Linked DNA regions of Homo sapiens: region 2 is linked to region 1. Evidence: fine-mapped expression QTL. Tissue or cell type: monocytes after interferon gamma. Region 1 holds a variant in brackets; the other region holds the start of a gene. All regions are shown on one strand. Distances are from middle to middle. Region 1 has its middle 21 kb from the start of PDGFB. Region 2 holds the start of PDGFB (platelet derived growth factor subunit B).

Region 1 (8,323 bases):
ATATGGAATCCCAATCTGAGGAGGCAGCTGGTCTCTGCTCTCTTTTATAAATGAGGAAACAGAGATATCAAGGGGCTGAGCAGCTTGCCCATGGACACACAGTGACAGGATAAAAATTCAGCTTCGTCAATCTCTGGCAGGCTGCATTTTCCAGCAGGGACCACAACAATGCCTGATATCCCACATGCTCCTCTTGCAATGCCATATTGATGTTCCTCCTGTGGAGAGGTGAGGTCTGCATTCCCTTTCCTTGAATCCAGATAAACTGGAATCCACAGAACCAAAGCTCTGTGGCCTCTGAGGCTGGGTCATCAAAAGCAATATTGTTTCTGCTTGGTTTTCCTGGGACGCTTGCCTCAGGAGTCCTGAGCTGCCATGCTGTGAGGAAGCTCAATCAGCCCACACGGAGAGACCCAACAGAGGGACCCAGAGAGTACAAGGGGAGGAGAGAGAGGCCCGGCCAGTGCCCACTGCACCTGCTCTAGCTACGAAGTGCAACTGCAATTGCAACTGCATGGAGACCCCAAGCAAGCCCACCCAGCTAAGCCCTTCCCAAATTCCTGACCCACAGAAACTATGAGAAATGATCCAGTGATTCTTGTTGTTTTAAGCTACTACATTTGGGGTTGGTTTGTTATGCAGCAGTAGCTAGTTAGATCATGACCCATTGCAAATCCTGTTGGACTGAAGTTCAGAATAACCTAGAAGCCAACCCATCTCACATCTCTACCCACTACCCAAATCCAAGCCACTGTCACCTCCTGCCTGGATGGCTGTGGTAGCCTCCTGACTTCTGCCCCGACCCTGCAGTCTGTCCCCTGCACAGCAGCCCAAGTGGGGCTACAGGGCAGAGATGACCCTGCTCAGAGCCCTCCAGTGGCTCCCATGGCACTCAAGTCCTGACAGTGACCCACAGGCCCAACAAGACCTGCCCCAGGACCTATCTGACCTCAGTTTGGCCCACCCGCCCCACCTCTCTCTGCTGCAGCCCCTCGGGCCTCTTGGCTGTGTCCCCAAACTCACCAAGCACTTCCCTTCCTCAGAGCCATTGACAGCGCCGTTCCCTCTACCTAGTTCTTTTCCCCCAGGTGTCTGGCTGGCTCCATCCCTCAGCCCTTCAGCTCTCAGCTAAAACATCACCTCCCTGGGGAGGCCTCCCCACCCCCACTTCCCCTCCACCAAAGTCCCTAGTCTCCTCTGCTTGATTTCTCTCTGTTGAATGCCCCGCCTCCTCATGGTGGTGATAAGTTAGATCTCAATTGTCTGTTGTCTACCTCTTCCCATCATTATATGAGCCCTTGCCAACAGGGACTTTGTTTTTACTGCTTTATCCTCAGTGCATAGAGCAGGCCCTGCACAAAATAGACCTTCAAATGTCTGTTGAATGAATGAAGGACACCAGAACCTTTCCGCCCAGTTGAAACCCTTGCTTAGTCTGCTTTCTGTTGCTTATAACAGAATACCTGAAACTGGATACTTTGTTTATTTATTTATTTTTTGGAAACAGAGTCTCGCTCTGTTGCCAGGCCGGAATGCAGTGTTGCGACCTCAGCTCACTGCAACGTCTGCCTCCCACATTCAAGCAGTTCTCCTGCCTCAGCCTCCTGAGTAGCTGGGACTACAGGCGCCCGCCACCACACCCAGCTAATTTTTGTATTTTTAGTAGAGACAGGTTTCAGCATGTTGGCCAGGACGGTCTCAATCTCTTGACCTTGTAATCTGCCCGCCTTGGCCTCCCAAAGTGTTGGGATTACCGGCGTGAGCCACCGCGCCCGGCCTTGAAACTGGATGCTTTATAAAGAAAAGGAATTTATTTCCTACAGGTGTGAAGCCTGAGAGGGCCAAGGTTGAGGGGCCACAGCTGGTGAGGGACTTCTTGCTGGTGGGGACTCTCTGCAGGTTCCCAAGATGGCGCAGGGCATCCCATGGTGAGGGAGCTGGGCGGGCTAACATGCTCAGGCCTCTCTTCCTTCCCCTCCCATGATAACCCATTATCCCATTAGTCCACAAATGGATTAATCTATTCTTGAGAACGGAGCCCTCCTGACCCCATCACCTCTTAAAGGGCCCACCTCTCAACATTGCCACACTGGGGATTAAGTTTCCTTAAAACGTGAGTTTTGGACGGAACAAATATTCAAACCATAGCACCCAGTGGGTGAGAGAGTAAGAGAAGGGGCGTCGAGCCTCTCAAGATGGGTTGCTCTCCTGCCTATTTAAGATACACCCCATACTTCAGATGTTGAAACTGATGCTTAGAGAAGGTGAATCATTTGTCAAGGCCTAACCAGTCGCTCACATAGTCAACAAATATTGATTGAGTTAAAGCTATATATAGCATCCAAATCTCCTGGGATCTTTGAACCCACACCTCCTGGGATCAAATCCCAGGGCTGCCACTTGCGAGCCAAAGGGGCAACTTACTTAATCTCTCTGTGCCTCAGTTTCCTCACATCTACCATGGGGCTACCCCCCACCCCAGAGGCAGGGGCATATTTGCCCTTTGGCTCCTGACTCCTAAGCTCTGGCATGCCTCATGTGCATGGCCCCTTCCAAGGCACCCTGCCTCTCTCATACCCACAATCATGTGTTTTCCTGGAAGAAGATCTCGAGACTGACTCAGCTTCAGGCCCCTAGTCCCCTACCCAGAGGGTTGTTTTGAGAATTAAATGAGTTACTGCCCATGAGGCGTGCCTGGCACATAGCAAGTGCTCAGTGCTGTTGCTGAGGGCCCACTGTGTGCTGGGCACGGTGCTTGGAGCCGGGAGTCAGTGGCAAAGACAGACCAAGCCTGCCATCATGGAGCCCATGTCCCAAGAGGGGAACAGACAGTGAACAAATGAGCAAATTGGAGCCTGCTCTGGGGAGGCAAGTGGCTGAAAGGAGAGAGCATTTTCAGGCAGGAGGAACAGCAGGTGCAAAGGCCCTGTGGTGGGGACGAGCTTGTCGCATTGGGGAAGTGAGTGAGGAGGCGCCGCAGGAGCTGTGGTCAGAGAAGCCGGGTGCTGGGTCTGCTTCCCTCTCCCCTCCCCGCCTCTGAGGGACCAGCTGGGGTACTGATCTACCATCTCCCTGTCCCTGCCTTGTGACCTCAGACCCTGTGCCCAGCCCCCACTTCCCCTTCCAGCTGTGACCCAGAAGTGGAGGGCACGTCCTTCCCTAGACTACATCTCCGTCCCCAGGGTGGGCCTGAAACTTCCAGAGCCTCAGTGGACTCAGCAGCTGTCCCCACTCCCTGACCCACCCACCTGCCCCCAGCAGCGTCAGACCCTCAAAAACTCCTCTCCTTTGCTTTCCCCAACCCTCCCAGAAACCATGGAGATTCCCCAGATGCATCAGACATTTCCCCAGCCCGGAACGCCCTGTCTGCCCTCCTCCATCTGACCAAATCTCAACGTCACCTCCTTCTGGAAGTCCCTGGGTTATGAGCAGAAAATGAGTCTTGCTCGTCTCTGTACCCCAGGGCCTGGTACAGGGCTTGGCACAAGGATAGACTGGTGATAAATGGAAAGCTATTCAGGTCCAATTGACACATTCTCCACTGGCCTGCTTGCCTGGCCCGTGCTGGGCATAGAAGCCAGGACTCTGACAGATGGCTCCACTCACGTTCATGGGCAAAGAACCCATTCCCAAGTCCAGGGTCCTGGAGTGTGCCTGGGCTCTGCACTAATCTGCGACGTGACCGTGGAAAGCCACCGGTCTCTGCTGGGCTTCTCCTTATCGCCAGAGCAGCAGCTGGAAGAGTCTATGCGTGAGTCACGGTGTGGGCCTGATCCAGACAGCCTGGGTTTGAATCCTGCCTGCCACTTGCTGCTGTGTGACCTTGGGTGAGTTTCTTAACTTCTCTGAGCCTCTGTTTCCCCATCAGTAAATGCTGAAGAGAATCAGTGCCTGTCTCACAGAATCGTTCTGAAGGTTCCTGGCGCTGGTTCTGTGGAAAGCTGGGCCTGTAGAAAGCACAGAAAGTGCATGCACCATGATTAGGCTTTGAGCTGCGTCTACAGGGACGTGATGTGCTTGTCGCACACATCTACTACATGTGTCAGAGTGGGAGCCTGGGAGTGCTCAGGACTGAGTCCTTTCTGAGGTTCCTCATGGCACCAAGGACAAGGGTAGCCAGAAACTCCCCGGGCCCCATCACAGCTCCCTGCTCGCGCGGGCTGGGGATGTGTGTGCACACCACACGGACGGGCGTCCGGTCCATCACAGGCACTCTCTTCCTGGACACACCACCTGCTCCGAGGCAGCCTCCATCCTCCCCCACCACTAGACACTCCGAGCAGTGGAATACCATTGAGGAGGTCCAGGGAAACAAGGTGATCCCATCATGGTGAACTGAGTTTCCATAGACCCACACACACATACCCTTACACACATACATACTCCCCTAGGGAAGGGTGGCTGGAAATAAGGTAACAGGACACATATGAAGGTTCTGGGAGGCTGGGCACAGTGGCTCACACCTGTAATCCCAGCACTTTGGGAGGCCGAGGCGGGTGGATCATGAGGTCAAGAGATCAAGACCATCCTGGCCAACATCATGAAACCCCATCTCTAATAAAATACAAAAATTAGCAGGGCGTGATGGCACGCGCCTGTAGTCCCAGCTACTCGGGAGGCTGAGGCAGGAGAATCGCTTGAACCCGGGAGGCAGAGGTTGCAATGAGCCGAGATTGTGCCACTGCACTCCAGCCTGGAGTAACAAGAGTGAAACTCCGTCTCAA[GA/G]AAAAAAAAAAAAAAAGTTTCTGGGGACCACAGCCGGTAAGGGGCTCACTCTCAGACTCCTGGGTTCCTGCCCCTTAGGGCCTGGGGGAGAAGGCCTCGTTTAAACAGAGAGTTTATTCATCTTAGTGATCTCTGTGTCCAAAGCCCATTGCACAGGGGAAGCTGAGGCCCAGGAAGCCTGAGTGACTCGTCTAAGATCACACAGCAGTATGGGAAGAGCCAGCCCTAGAACCCAGGACTCTGACTTCCTGGCCATGCCCCTCCCACACAGAGTGATGCGTGTCTAGAGATCACCCCAGTTCTACTTTCCAAAATGAGTCAGGAACATCTGTACCTCTGGGACTAAAAATACTCCCAGGGACACCCCAGTAAGAACGCTGACATCTTTCCGGGTGTCTGAAAACAGAACTGGCCTTCCTAAGAACTAACAACGATACTGTTTTCAGCCACGTTCCCTTCCTGTTCTTGCTACACGCTCTGTCAAATAGGTGGCCAGAGGCCCGGGTGCAGATGCAGTGGCTCACGTCAGTAATCCCAGCACTCTGGGAGGCTGGTGGGCGGATCACTTGAGGCCAGGAGTTTAAAGACCAGCTTGGGCAACATGGTGAAACCCTGTCTCTACTAAAAATACAAAAAATTAGCCGGGTGTGGTGGCACAAACCTGTAGTTCCAGCTACTCAGGAGGCTGAGGTGGGAGGATCACCTGAGCCGGGAAGTCAAGAGTGCAGTGAGCCATGATGGCATGCCACTGCACACCAGTCTGGGCAACAGGAATGAGACCCTTTCTCCAAAAGAAAAAAGAAAAGTAGGTGACCAGGCCCCATCTGACAGGATGTGCCACTGAGGCCTAAAGGGATCTGCCCAGGATCACACAGGCAGCCCCTGACACCTGGCTGCCACCTCCAAGCCTAGAACCTTCCCTGATGCCAACTCCCTCTCAGAGACTCGAGGGCAGAGCACAGACAGCATCCACCCCATCCCCACCCCGAATTCCTTTGATTTTTTTTTTTCATTTTTAATGTCTTGGCCGGGCACAGTGGCTCATGCCTGTAATCCCAGCACTTTGGGAGGCCGAGGTGGGCGGATCACAAGGTCAGGAGTTCGAGACCAGTCTGGCCAATATGGTGAAACCCTGTCTCTACTAAAAATGCAAAAAAAAAATAGTCAGGAGTGGTGGCGGACGCCTGTAGTCCCAGCTACTCGGGAGGCTGAGGCAGGAGAATCACTTGAACCTATGAGGCGGAGGTTGCAGTGAGCCAAGATCATGCCACTGCACTCCAGCCTGGGCGACAGAGCAAGACTCCGTCAAAAAAAAATCATTTTTAATATCTTTACCATAAAAGCAACAATACATGTTCATTTATGAAAATCTAAAAATTGCAGAAAAGTCAAAATAAGGAAGAAAAATCACCACCCACAGCCCCACCACCCAGAGACAATCATTGTTAAGGTTTGATGTATTTCCTTCCATAGTTTTTTGTTTGAGGACTTTAAAAAAAAAATGGGGCTGAGGTCATACTGTATATTAAAAGAAAAAAAAAAGGTGGTATCCTGCCTTTTTGACCTGCCATTATATCATGGCCACTTTTCTAGTTCTTTCACTCTCTGTAATCTCGTTTCTTTTTCCTCTTCTCTGAACCTCATTTTTATTGGCTGCCTAATATTTTGTCAAACCATATTCCATGGTTTATTTTGCCATTCCCTCATTGTTGGAAATCTCAGTTATTTCCAGTTTTTCGAAGCTATAAATAATATATTTCGATTAATATCTTTCTACAGATAGCTTTCCTTTTTCCATATTTAGGGGTTGCTCCTTGGCTGGCATGGAATTCCTGGGTCAGCAAGCCATGTGTGATATGCTTCTGACTCAACCCAGTTGCTTTTCTAAGGACCTGAGCCATGCCTGGTCTACAGAGGAGCAGAGAAGCCCCAGGAGGTGACATACACTGCTCATGGCCACTCAGCCGGTTAGCCATGCCCACGCTCCTTCCTCTGTCTCTCGCCTATCTCTGTCATCATGCTTCCATCTAATCATTTTCATTCATTCATTCGATTCAACAGAGAAGGTGAACCCACTGTGTGCCAGGCGCAGGTCCGGGCTCCAGAGACCCGGCAATGGACAGTCAAAGCCTGTGCCCTCCAGGCGTTTCTACCACAAGGCATGATGGGAAGAAGGGTATATCCTCACCCACCTCCGCATTTGGTTATATGCAATGTGAGGTGTTCGTTTGCATGGCTTCTCATTTGCATCCCACCTGGGGACAGGTGGGCCGGCAGAGGGTGACATCTATCAGCTCTAAGGGCAGGGTCCTGGTTTTCCTCAGCCCCAAACTGTTTTCTAACATTTGGCCTTCCCTTAAAACTTGGGAGATTTCACAAGAGTCTGGATTTCTGACTTCTTCTGAACACTCTGTAGGCCTGGCCACACTGGGCCCAGGTCCCAGAGGGCCCCCAGGGATTGGAGCTCAGTCGTGGCACCCCCTCTGCCCAGGCCCGACCTGGCTACCTTGACACACACCACACTGAGCTTCTTGGCCGTCCTTTCTGCACACATTCATTGGGTCCTGGCCATTCCTGACTCGGCTGGAGGGATGTTAATGATTGTAATCCAGAGACAAGTCACAAGAAGATGAAGTCACTTGGCTGAGGTGACAGAGCTACAAGGGACAGGGGCAGGATTTGAACCAGAGCGACTCGGATCCTGAGTCCAGGCTTTTGGCCACGCCTGCCTGACAGTCCAGTGGGAAAACTGTCAGGTCCTGGGAGACCCTGGCAGGGGGACAGACTGCCCCACCGCAGCCAGGGGCAGCTCAGAGGGTCCCCAGGGCAGCAGAGGTCTAAGACCACTGTGGACATGGGCCTGAGAGCCAGAGCTCAAAAGTCAGGTTGGAGGTTTCCTATTTGAGGAGAGCCTCCCTCTGCCCAGAACACCCTCTCCTCCTGCCTTTACCTGCTTCATGCTTACTCTTGCTCAGCTGAGACGCCACCTCCTCCAGGGAGCCCTCCCTGACCCCAGGGAGGGTTTACAGCTAGCTTCAGAGCTCCGGTCCAGCCCAGAGGGAGGTGTGGCCCTGACTGGATGGGAGAGACTAGAGCACCAGCACCAGTGACTTACACATTCCCAAGTTTCCACTGCCTCCCACGGGAGACCCCCCGCTCGCACTCCAAACCCCAGCCACCTCCCACCCCCTCAGCTCCATGTGGATTAAGAGAGAAAGGAAGAAACAGCAGTGACTGCAGGACAGTAGGACGGCTGCTGGCCTAGGGTGGCCCAGAAAACCCCAGCTTCACCCTACACTGGCTGCATGACCTGAGGCATTTCCTAACCACCCTGCGCCTTGGCTTCCTCACCTCTAAAACAGACTGTAGTGGAGTTCCTCCCTCCCGGTCACTGTGAGCCTTCACGGGAAGAGCCCCTGGTGGACACCCCAGTAAGTGGTCATCTTATTATTAATGAACAGGGGAGCACCCACCCCCGGGGTCATGGGCTCACAGAATGCGGGGAGCCTAGAGCCCCCAGCCCCACCGTCTCATTTTATAGCTGAGGAGACTAAGCCCAGGGAGGGAGGAAGCCATGGCTTCAGCAAGAGGCCCTGAC
Region 2 (8,323 bases), 20 kb before region 1:
GAGCTGTGGGAAAGAAGGAGGAGGTGCTGGACGAAGCTGGAAATGGTAAGGGGAGGCTGGGGAAACATCCAGCTGTCAGCGGCCTCCCCGGGGCACGCTGGGATCAGCCAAGAGAATGCAACAGCCAGGGGTGGGAGCCCCCTCCGCGGTTGCACACGCCAGGTCCCTCCAGTCTTGCAGGTTCAAATGAAGGCTTATGTGAAGGGGGAATCGCTCTGGACAGCTCAGTGCCCCTCAGAGTCACATCACCACCATTTTCCACCACGCGGAGGTGGTTGAAAAAAAGGAGTCACAGATGGGTAAGGTTTGAGGGGCGTCGGGCTGACGAGGCAAAAAAAAAAGTAGGTGCTGTGGTGCTGATGGGAGGTTCTCCCTCCCTCACAGGACGCCAGGAAGGAAATGGGGCCGCTACAGAGGTGGTGAGGTGCCAGGGCCCACGGAGGGCCCACCTGTTGCGCGGGGGCGAGCACCAGGCGCTGGGTGCACGGGGGCCCGTGCGTGCCTGTGTACGTGCGTGGGTGTGCGCGCACGTGTGCTCAGGCCGCGCGTGCAGGGGCCGTGCGTGCGTTTGTGTGCGGTGCGCGCGCGTGTGTCCCGCGTGTGCACGGGCGTGGCAGAGGCGGGCGCGCGACCTGGCCGCGGTAGTGCGTGCCCGTCGCTCTGCGCGCCCGCCCGCCGGAGCGCAGCATCGCCTCCGGCCAGGAGTGTGCATGCGTGGGGTGAGTGAGCGAGTCGGGGGCCCGGGCGGGGTGGGCTGCGGAGAGCAGCCACGGGGCGCCGCCGTTCCCAGGACGCCCTGGCACCGGGCCCAGCCCCCAGGTCCCACGGCGAGGCGAGGCGGCAGCTGGGGCCGGCCGGCCACCCCCTCCCCAACAGCTGGCCGCGGCCCGGGGGGCTGCGGGAGAGGCGGAGAGGGGGCGTCGGGAGGGGCCTGAAGGCGGCCCGGCCGAGCCCCGCGTCCTCCCTCCCGGGTGCGGGCCGCGGGGGGCGGCCGCGGAAGGGCGGGGCCCCCGGGCGGGCGGCCTGCGGCCCTCGAGGAGCCCCGAGAACAAAAGGAGACGGCGACGGCTCCTCCGTGGTCAAAACAACCTGCGCTGGCGGCAGCCCAAGGCCGGGCCGCGGCCTCCGAGCCCTCCGCCTTAACCCCTTCGCCGCCGCTGCCTCCTTCCTGCGCCTGGCTGGAGGCCGCAGGGGCCGACCCTCCCCGGGAGCCGGCGAGGTGCGGGCGAGGTGCGGACTCCCGGCCGCAGCCGGGCGGAGGTGGGACGGTACCCAGTCACGCCGCGCTCCCGGCTGCCCTCTCCTCCCCTCCACCGCGCGCGTCGTCCTGCCCCGCCCCCTTTCCCACCTGGATTCCGGGTAGACTTGCCAACTCACGGCTACGTGAGGCTGGGAGGGGTGGGGACGGCTCCGACCCCAGCGCTCCCTCAGATGTTTTTATACCCCATCTCCCGTGCAGCTAGGCTTTTGCAGGCGGCGCGCTCCGCACCCTGCATGCGGGGGAGAGAGGTGCTTCCTCCTGCAGGGCGCGGGCACAGGTACGGCAAGGCCTCAGGCACACAGCGCCCCGGGGGCTGGATTCCTTCAGAGCCCCTAGTCCTCCCCCTACCCGAGTGCCCGAAACCTACCTGCGTCTCTATCTTTCTCTCCCTCTCTCTCTCCGTCTCTCTCTCCGTCTCTCTCTCTCTCTCTCTCTTTCTCTCTCTCTCTCTCTCTCTCCCTGTTACTCCCACCCCAAACCCCGCGCCCGAGACACAAGCTGCTTCCAGACCGTGCTCTGGGGCCGGGCATGCCCTGCGCGTGCCGGAGGGCGTCCACCCGGACCCCGACCGGGAGCCAGGGTGGGACCCGAGCCCCGTCAAAGGTCGGCGTGGATGGCACCGGTGCGCAAGCTTGCACCTCCTGGGCAAGCCGATGGCAGGACAGAGCCTAAGCCGAGGCTGGCGCCGAAGTGGGCTCGGGAGGACGCGCTGCCTTCTGCACCCTGGGCACCACCCCACCCCCTCTCCCCCGGCCGGGAAGGGGCTTGTTCTCGGGTTCCCAAAGGGTGGGGGACAGGGCCACACACACCCTCCCCCGACACGGAACGGCTTAGGGAGCCAGATTCGCCCGCCGGTTGGAAAGAAAGCCACCGCTGTTGCCTTCCCTTAGAGCCTGTCACCCCCGGACCTCGCTCCCAGCCCGAAGAGGTCACCCAGCGCCCGGCGTCAGGCTCGCGGGCTGCAAGGGTCCAAAGTTCACTGCAGGGAGAGGAGGGGGCGGTCAGAAGGGGGGGGCGAAGGTAATGAATGAAGAACCAGCCCCAGCCGCCGTGGCAACTCACCTCGGCGCTGACCAGACGCAGGTAGCAGCAGAGAGACAGGAAGAGCGCCCAGCAGCGATTCATGCCGACTCCGGGCCCGGCCCCGCGGGGCCCCGGACGCGTAGATCGAGCGCGCCGCCCCCGCGGCCAGGGTGGGGGGCTGGGGAGGGGGGTGGGCTCGGCTCGGGTCCGCGGCGATCAGGCGCTCAGGCCTCTGCAGCCGCGGCTCACCCGCATGGCCCCCGGGCGCCGCCGCCCCCGGCCCCGGCTCCGTCGCTGGGGGGCAGGGGAGGACCTGGGCGCAGGACCTGGGTCCGAGGCCGCTACCTGGGCGGATCCCGAGCCCGAGTGAGCATCCACGGCCGGGGGGCTGCGTCGCGAACCAGCCGAGGCGTCTAGCCGTGTGGGGGCGCCCAGGGGACTCCAACCTCCAAGAGGAAAAGGAACACGGCAGTCGATGGTTCGTCTTCACTCGCCGGCTACAGGCGTTTTCCTCTGCCCGCCGGCTTAGCTTTTTTGCAACATTTTCTGGAAAGGCCCCCAAAATCGGAAAGCGCGGAGCTGGGCACCTCAAGGCCCAAGTCTCCCCCAAAAAACTTTTTCCAAAGTTGGCTTTGCAACGGCAGCTCGAGCACCCGGGCAGGGAGAGGTGCAAACTCCCGCCCGGGCCGGGTAGGGGGGCGGGAGCGTGTGCGCCCTGGCGCGGGGCCCGGGCGGCGGGCACGGCTGCTCCGCGCGCGCGGCGTGCCCGCTGCGCGCTCGGCTGGGCCCGGCCGACAGGTGGACGCGGCGCGAGTCCGTCGGTCCGTCTGCCCGCCCGCTCGCCGCTCTGGGCGTCCTCTGCGGGCTGCGGGCTGCGAGCTGCGAGCTGCGAGCTGCGGCTGCTCCGGTTTTCTCTTTGCAGCGAGGCTGGAGGGTGGGCTTTTTTTTTTTTTTTTCCTTTTTGCGCGCGTATGTATGTGTGTGCGCGCAAAGTATCTCTATCTAGGGAATGAAAAATGGGCGCTGGCGGCCGGAGGGGAGCCCTAGGGAGGCAGCGGGGGAGGCTGCGGGTGCGCAGGGAGGCAGGCAGGCCGCTCCCGGCTGCAGGAGGAGAAGTTGCCACCCTTTCAGCTGTTCCGGCCTTTATAAAGGAGAAGGGAGAGTGCGAGAGGTGGGTGGAGACAGCCTTTCCTCTTCTGGCCCGGAGTCAGCGCCAGGAGGGGGGGGACGCGGGAGCTGGGGGAGGGCTTGGGGCCAGGGCGGGGCGCTTAGGGGGTCTCTGAGAGCCGAGCAACCCTTCAGTCCATGAATCTGGCCCTGGGGAAAAAAGAACTAGGGGTGACCCACCGTCCCGCCCCTCAGCACAGTGACCATGGACAGGTTAGGAGCCCACGTGGTCTAGGGGGATGTCTCCAGAGCCAAGGCCAGGAGTCCACGCTCCCCTCCAGGACCAGACATTTCCACCCTGGCACAGGCATGGCAGGGAGGGACTCAGGCTCTGCAGTCTGAGAGCCTGAATTCAGATCCTGCCCTGGCACTCGGGAGCTTGGGTCACCTTGGGCAAGTCACTTCCCTCTGTCCCCTCCATCTAGCCTCAACCTGGAGATGGGGCTATTGTAAGGACTCAGTGTTAGCAAGGGAAGACACCGCAAGGTGAACCCACAGAACCCGGCAGCCAGCGCCCTTCAGCTGCAAGCTGGGTCCGAGTCTCCTCCTCCTAGCTGGTTGCCTGGCACAACAGGCCCTGCCAGCGTTGGCTGAATTTGAATTTGTTGAACTGCAAAGTCACACAAACCCCCACAGCCCTGCAGCATCTTCGCAGGGCTACCAACATGATCTTCCCGTCAGTCACCCTGCTGTTTACTATCTCCCTCAGCCCCCGGGTTCGAGGCCCAGAGCCCACCCACCCACAACCAGCCTTCACACAGTTAACGCCTTCTGCCCCCAGTCAGGGAGCTGCTGTGTCCCTGCCTTCAGCAGTCACACTGTCTCAGTCACAGTCACACGTACTCACACTGGGCCCAGCACCCCCCTCGGGACACGCAGGCTCCTGCATCACCCAGCCTCCCGGCTTTGAGGCACCCTCATCTCCTCCGCTTGCACTGTCTCTGTTATCCGCCCTTCCCTTTGGGATGTCAGCCTGCTTCTCACAGAGGAGCACACTGAGAGAGTCACACCTGCTCTCTCTTCATAGACTGTCTTCTTGGACCTGGACAGGGTGGAACAGAGGAGGAAGGACATCTCAGGTGGTCTTTACAGACCACTGCAGGCACCCACCCACTGCTGCCTACCACCCAGCAGCGTGGCACAGTGGCAGAGACACAGCCTGAAGACACATCACCTTGGTCCAAATCCTGGAGTGGCCACTTGCTGGACAAGTGTCTGCAGGAAGGTTTTTTAACCTCTCAGTACCTCGGTTTCCTCCTTTATAAACTGGAGATGAATTTATAAACTGGAGCTGGGTGTGGTAACAAGCTCCTGTAGTCCCAGCTACTCAGGAGACTGTGGATCGTTTTGAGCCCAGGAGTTTGAGGCTGCAGTGAGTTGTGACTGTGCCACTGCACTCCAGCCTGGGCAACAGAGCAAGACCCTATCTCTAAAGAAATAAAAATAAATCTATAATGGGAAGGAGTGAGAGAGAACAGAGAGGCATGGCAAAATTTTAGTGGTGATGGAAATGTTTGTCATTTTTGATTGTGGTGATGGGCTTATGGGTGTATACGTACATCACAACAAAATGTGTGCAGTTTGTTGTACCTCAGTGCAGTTGTAGAGAATTTTTACCCTGCTCCTGGAGTGGTCTGGAGGCTCCCATGAGGTCCTCCATGTGGAGGCGCTCAGCAAAACACCTTAGCAGGAAGCAAGCGCCTGGAACCTTCCATGCAGCCTTCAAGTTCACTGGTGGCCCCGCACTGCTCCAGGCACTGGGGAGACAGGTGTGAACCAGCCTAATGCAGGCCCCTGCCTTTGAAGAGCCCCATTGAGAAGGACAACCAGATGTATAAACAGATAAATTAGGAGACAGGGTGACAAGGGAGATGGGGCAGCGGGACGAGGAGATAACCCCCAAACACTAGATTTGAAGTCTAACGACTCAGAGATAAAAACCCTCTTCCACCGGACAGCTGGGTCATTTGACCTTGACCTTCTGTGTCTTCTATAAATAGAATGGTAACAACTACCATGATTAGTGAGCTGACTATGTGGTAGCTAGTGTTTTTCTTACTCTACCTGTAGCCTCTCCATGCTCCTGTGAGATGTGTTATTCCTATCTTACAGATGGGGAAATGGAAGCACAGAGAGGCCAATACACTTGTTCAAGGTCACACAGCCCGTAAGTGGTAAGGCCAGGACTTGAATCTGAGCAGTCCAGCTACAGAGCCCACATGCTGAGACCACCGTGCTGTGCAATTTTCTGGCAGGTGATGCTGATGACAATGATGACACTTTTGACACAGCGCTTTGGTGAGCGCCACATGCATTAATATGTGGGAACCTGCTCTGCCAGCTAAAAAGTGATGGACCCATATGAACTCTGACTTAGGTACAAGTTGAGGGAGAGGGAAGGCTACTCAGAGCAGCATCGTAGAACGCCTACTGTTTGCAGACCCTGTGTGAAGCGCTGAGAAATGGAATGAGGAAGGAGTCCCAGCCTCGGCACTCAGGGACTTCCCATGCTCTCAGTGAGATAGACCCAAATCATTGCAGTGCAGGTGCCAGTACATGGGTTAGAAGTGGCAGAAGAGGGCCCAGCAGACACCTGGGCCTGAATGCTACGTGACACCTGCGTGACACCTGGGCCTGAATGTTGTGCTAAGGGCTCCTTTCTTGTACCTTCTCTGTGCAGAGGAACAGTCTGTAAAGAACACCTCCCCAGGCACGGTGGCTCACCCCTGTATTCCCAGCAATTTGGGAGGCTGAGGCCAGAGGATCATGTGCAGCCAGGAGTTCGAGACCAGCCTCAGCAACATAGCGAGATCCCATCTCTTAAAAAAAATTACCAAAAAAAAAAAAAAAAAAAAAAAAAAATATATATATATATATATATATATATATATATATATATATATATATATATCTGAGTGTGGCCCCAGCTACTCAGGAGGCTGAGTCAGGAGGGAGAATCCCCTGAGCCCAGGAGTTCAAGACTGCAGTGAGCCATCTCAGAGACGGGGTCTCGGTCTGTCGCCGAGGCTGGAGTGCCGTGGTGCGATCTCTTCTCACTGCAACCTCTGCCTCCCAGGTTCAAGCGATTCTCCTGCCTCAGCCTCCCGAGTAGCTGAGACCACAGGCGCCTGCCACCATGCCCAGCTAATTTTTGTATTTTTAGTAGAGACGGTTTCACCATGTTGACCAGGGTGCTCTCGATCTCCTGACCTCAAGTGATCTGCCCCACTCAGCCTCCCGAAGTGCTGGGATTACAGGCATGAACCACCACACCCAGCCTAAAAATTTTTTTTTAATAACACCTGATCGTCTGCCTCCTGCCAGGCTGGGTGTAGCAGGCACCTCCTCCAGAAGGCCCACCAGGCTTGGCACTTGTTCCAGGCTCCACAGCATGCACACCTGGCATCGTCATGGCCTGATCATCAATCTAGCACTAGACTGAGTCCAGAGTGTTCAAGGGCCTCCTGCCAGCTCCTAGCATACAGTGGCTGCTCAGGAAGTGCCGCTCGCTGAAGGAATGAATAAATGATTAAAATCCTGCCAATTTCTCTTTCTGAGTCCTGACCAGTTATTGCAGAGATGCCAGGCCCTTCCTAAAGGGTGGAAAGAGTTGGGGAGGGGCTTGTAGCATGAGCCTCTAAGCTTGGAAGCACAGGGCCCCTGAAGGGCACCCCTTCTGGAGGTATCAGAACTGGGAAGGGTCTGAAGCCACACCACCCTGAATGCACGTGGTCTCATCTGACCTCGGAACTTCATCAGGGCTGGGTCTGAGGAGCACTTGAATGAGAGAACTGGGAAGGCCCCCGCCCATCTTCGCGTTCAGGCCACTGGGAAATAAGGTTCTCCAGCAGAGCTAGGGATGGGGGCGCCCACACCCCCGTAACTCTCCACCCTCCACTCCAGGACAGATCTGAGCCAAAGGGAAAAAGAGTGGCCACAGCCGTGGGGGATGGGGGTGCTGCCCAAGGTTGGGGGCTTTTTAGACTGTGTGCTCAGAGCTATCCAAGCCCTCATCCATGAAGAGCATCTTACACCCTGGGCGTGGGGGTCCAGGACACTGGCTGGGGTGAAGAAATACCAAGGAAGGAGTTGGGTTCCATCCCGGGGGCAAACTCACGCCCTCAAGTCCAGAAAGGTGAGAGCGATGATCACTGGGAGCCTCCCCGCCACTGAGAGGGGCCAGCAACACCTGGGCCAGGCAGCTCTGCTTCTCCATACTTGATGGAGAGGAAGTGAGGCTCTAAGCTGGAGACCGTCCAAGACCATGCCACAAATGGTCTGAAACTCCAAGCCCTACCCCACTCCGCGTGGCCCTCATCAGCTCCCCCATGCCCCTTGCTGCCCCATCCCCTGCCTCCCTGTCTACAGGGCCTTTGGCTGTCCACAAAGCACTTCCTTCCCCTCTGCCTGCCTCACCCTCACAGTCGCCCAGGGAGAAGGCATTGCCATCGTATATGCCCATTGTACAGATGAGGAAAGTGAGGCTGAGAGAGGGCAAGGGACTAGGCTTCCCGTCAAAGACCACCTGGGTTCAAAGCCCTGCCCTACCATCTACTAACTCTGTGACCTTAAGCAAATTCCTTAACCTTCCTGAGCCTCACGTTCCTCCTCTGTAAGTCGTAGGGACAATAGTCCCTACCTCACTGGGTTAAATGAGTTAATTCACCTGAAGTGATAAAGCCTGGAGTGAGCACCCCACAGATGTTGGTCATCACAGTGATGGTTATTACTGCAGGCTCTGCGCGCGCGCGCACACACACACACACACACACACACACACACACACACACCCCTACCTCACTTGCAAATTCACCTCTGAGCTCCAGAGCCAGCGCTAGGAGAGGGGCCACAGGTCTTCACCTGGAGAGGGTG

The links. PIP is the estimated chance that this variant, and not a neighbour inherited with it, causes the effect. A credible set is the group of variants that fine-mapping cannot tell apart.
Region 2: it holds the start of PDGFB, and the variant in region 1 is the best candidate, but not a certain one, in a credible set for the expression of PDGFB in monocytes after interferon gamma (Fairfax 2014, PIP 0.53).

Annotation. Positions count from the first base shown.
Region 1 is chr22:39,261,542-39,269,864 of GRCh38, forward strand. No RefSeq gene overlaps it. Among named protein-coding and RNA genes, the nearest start is that of PDGFB, 21 kb to the left of the region's middle. RefSeq lists enhancers at 879-1,378, 5,000-5,079, 5,260-5,529, 7,298-7,830. The variant GA/G (reference allele first, on the strand shown) is at 4,725.
Region 2 is chr22:39,241,578-39,249,900 of GRCh38, forward strand. PDGFB (platelet derived growth factor subunit B) reads right to left here and starts at 3,405. Exons shown (of 7, transcript NM_002608.4): 1 at 2,324-3,405. The coding sequence starts at 2,386. RefSeq lists a silencer at 1,460-1,539.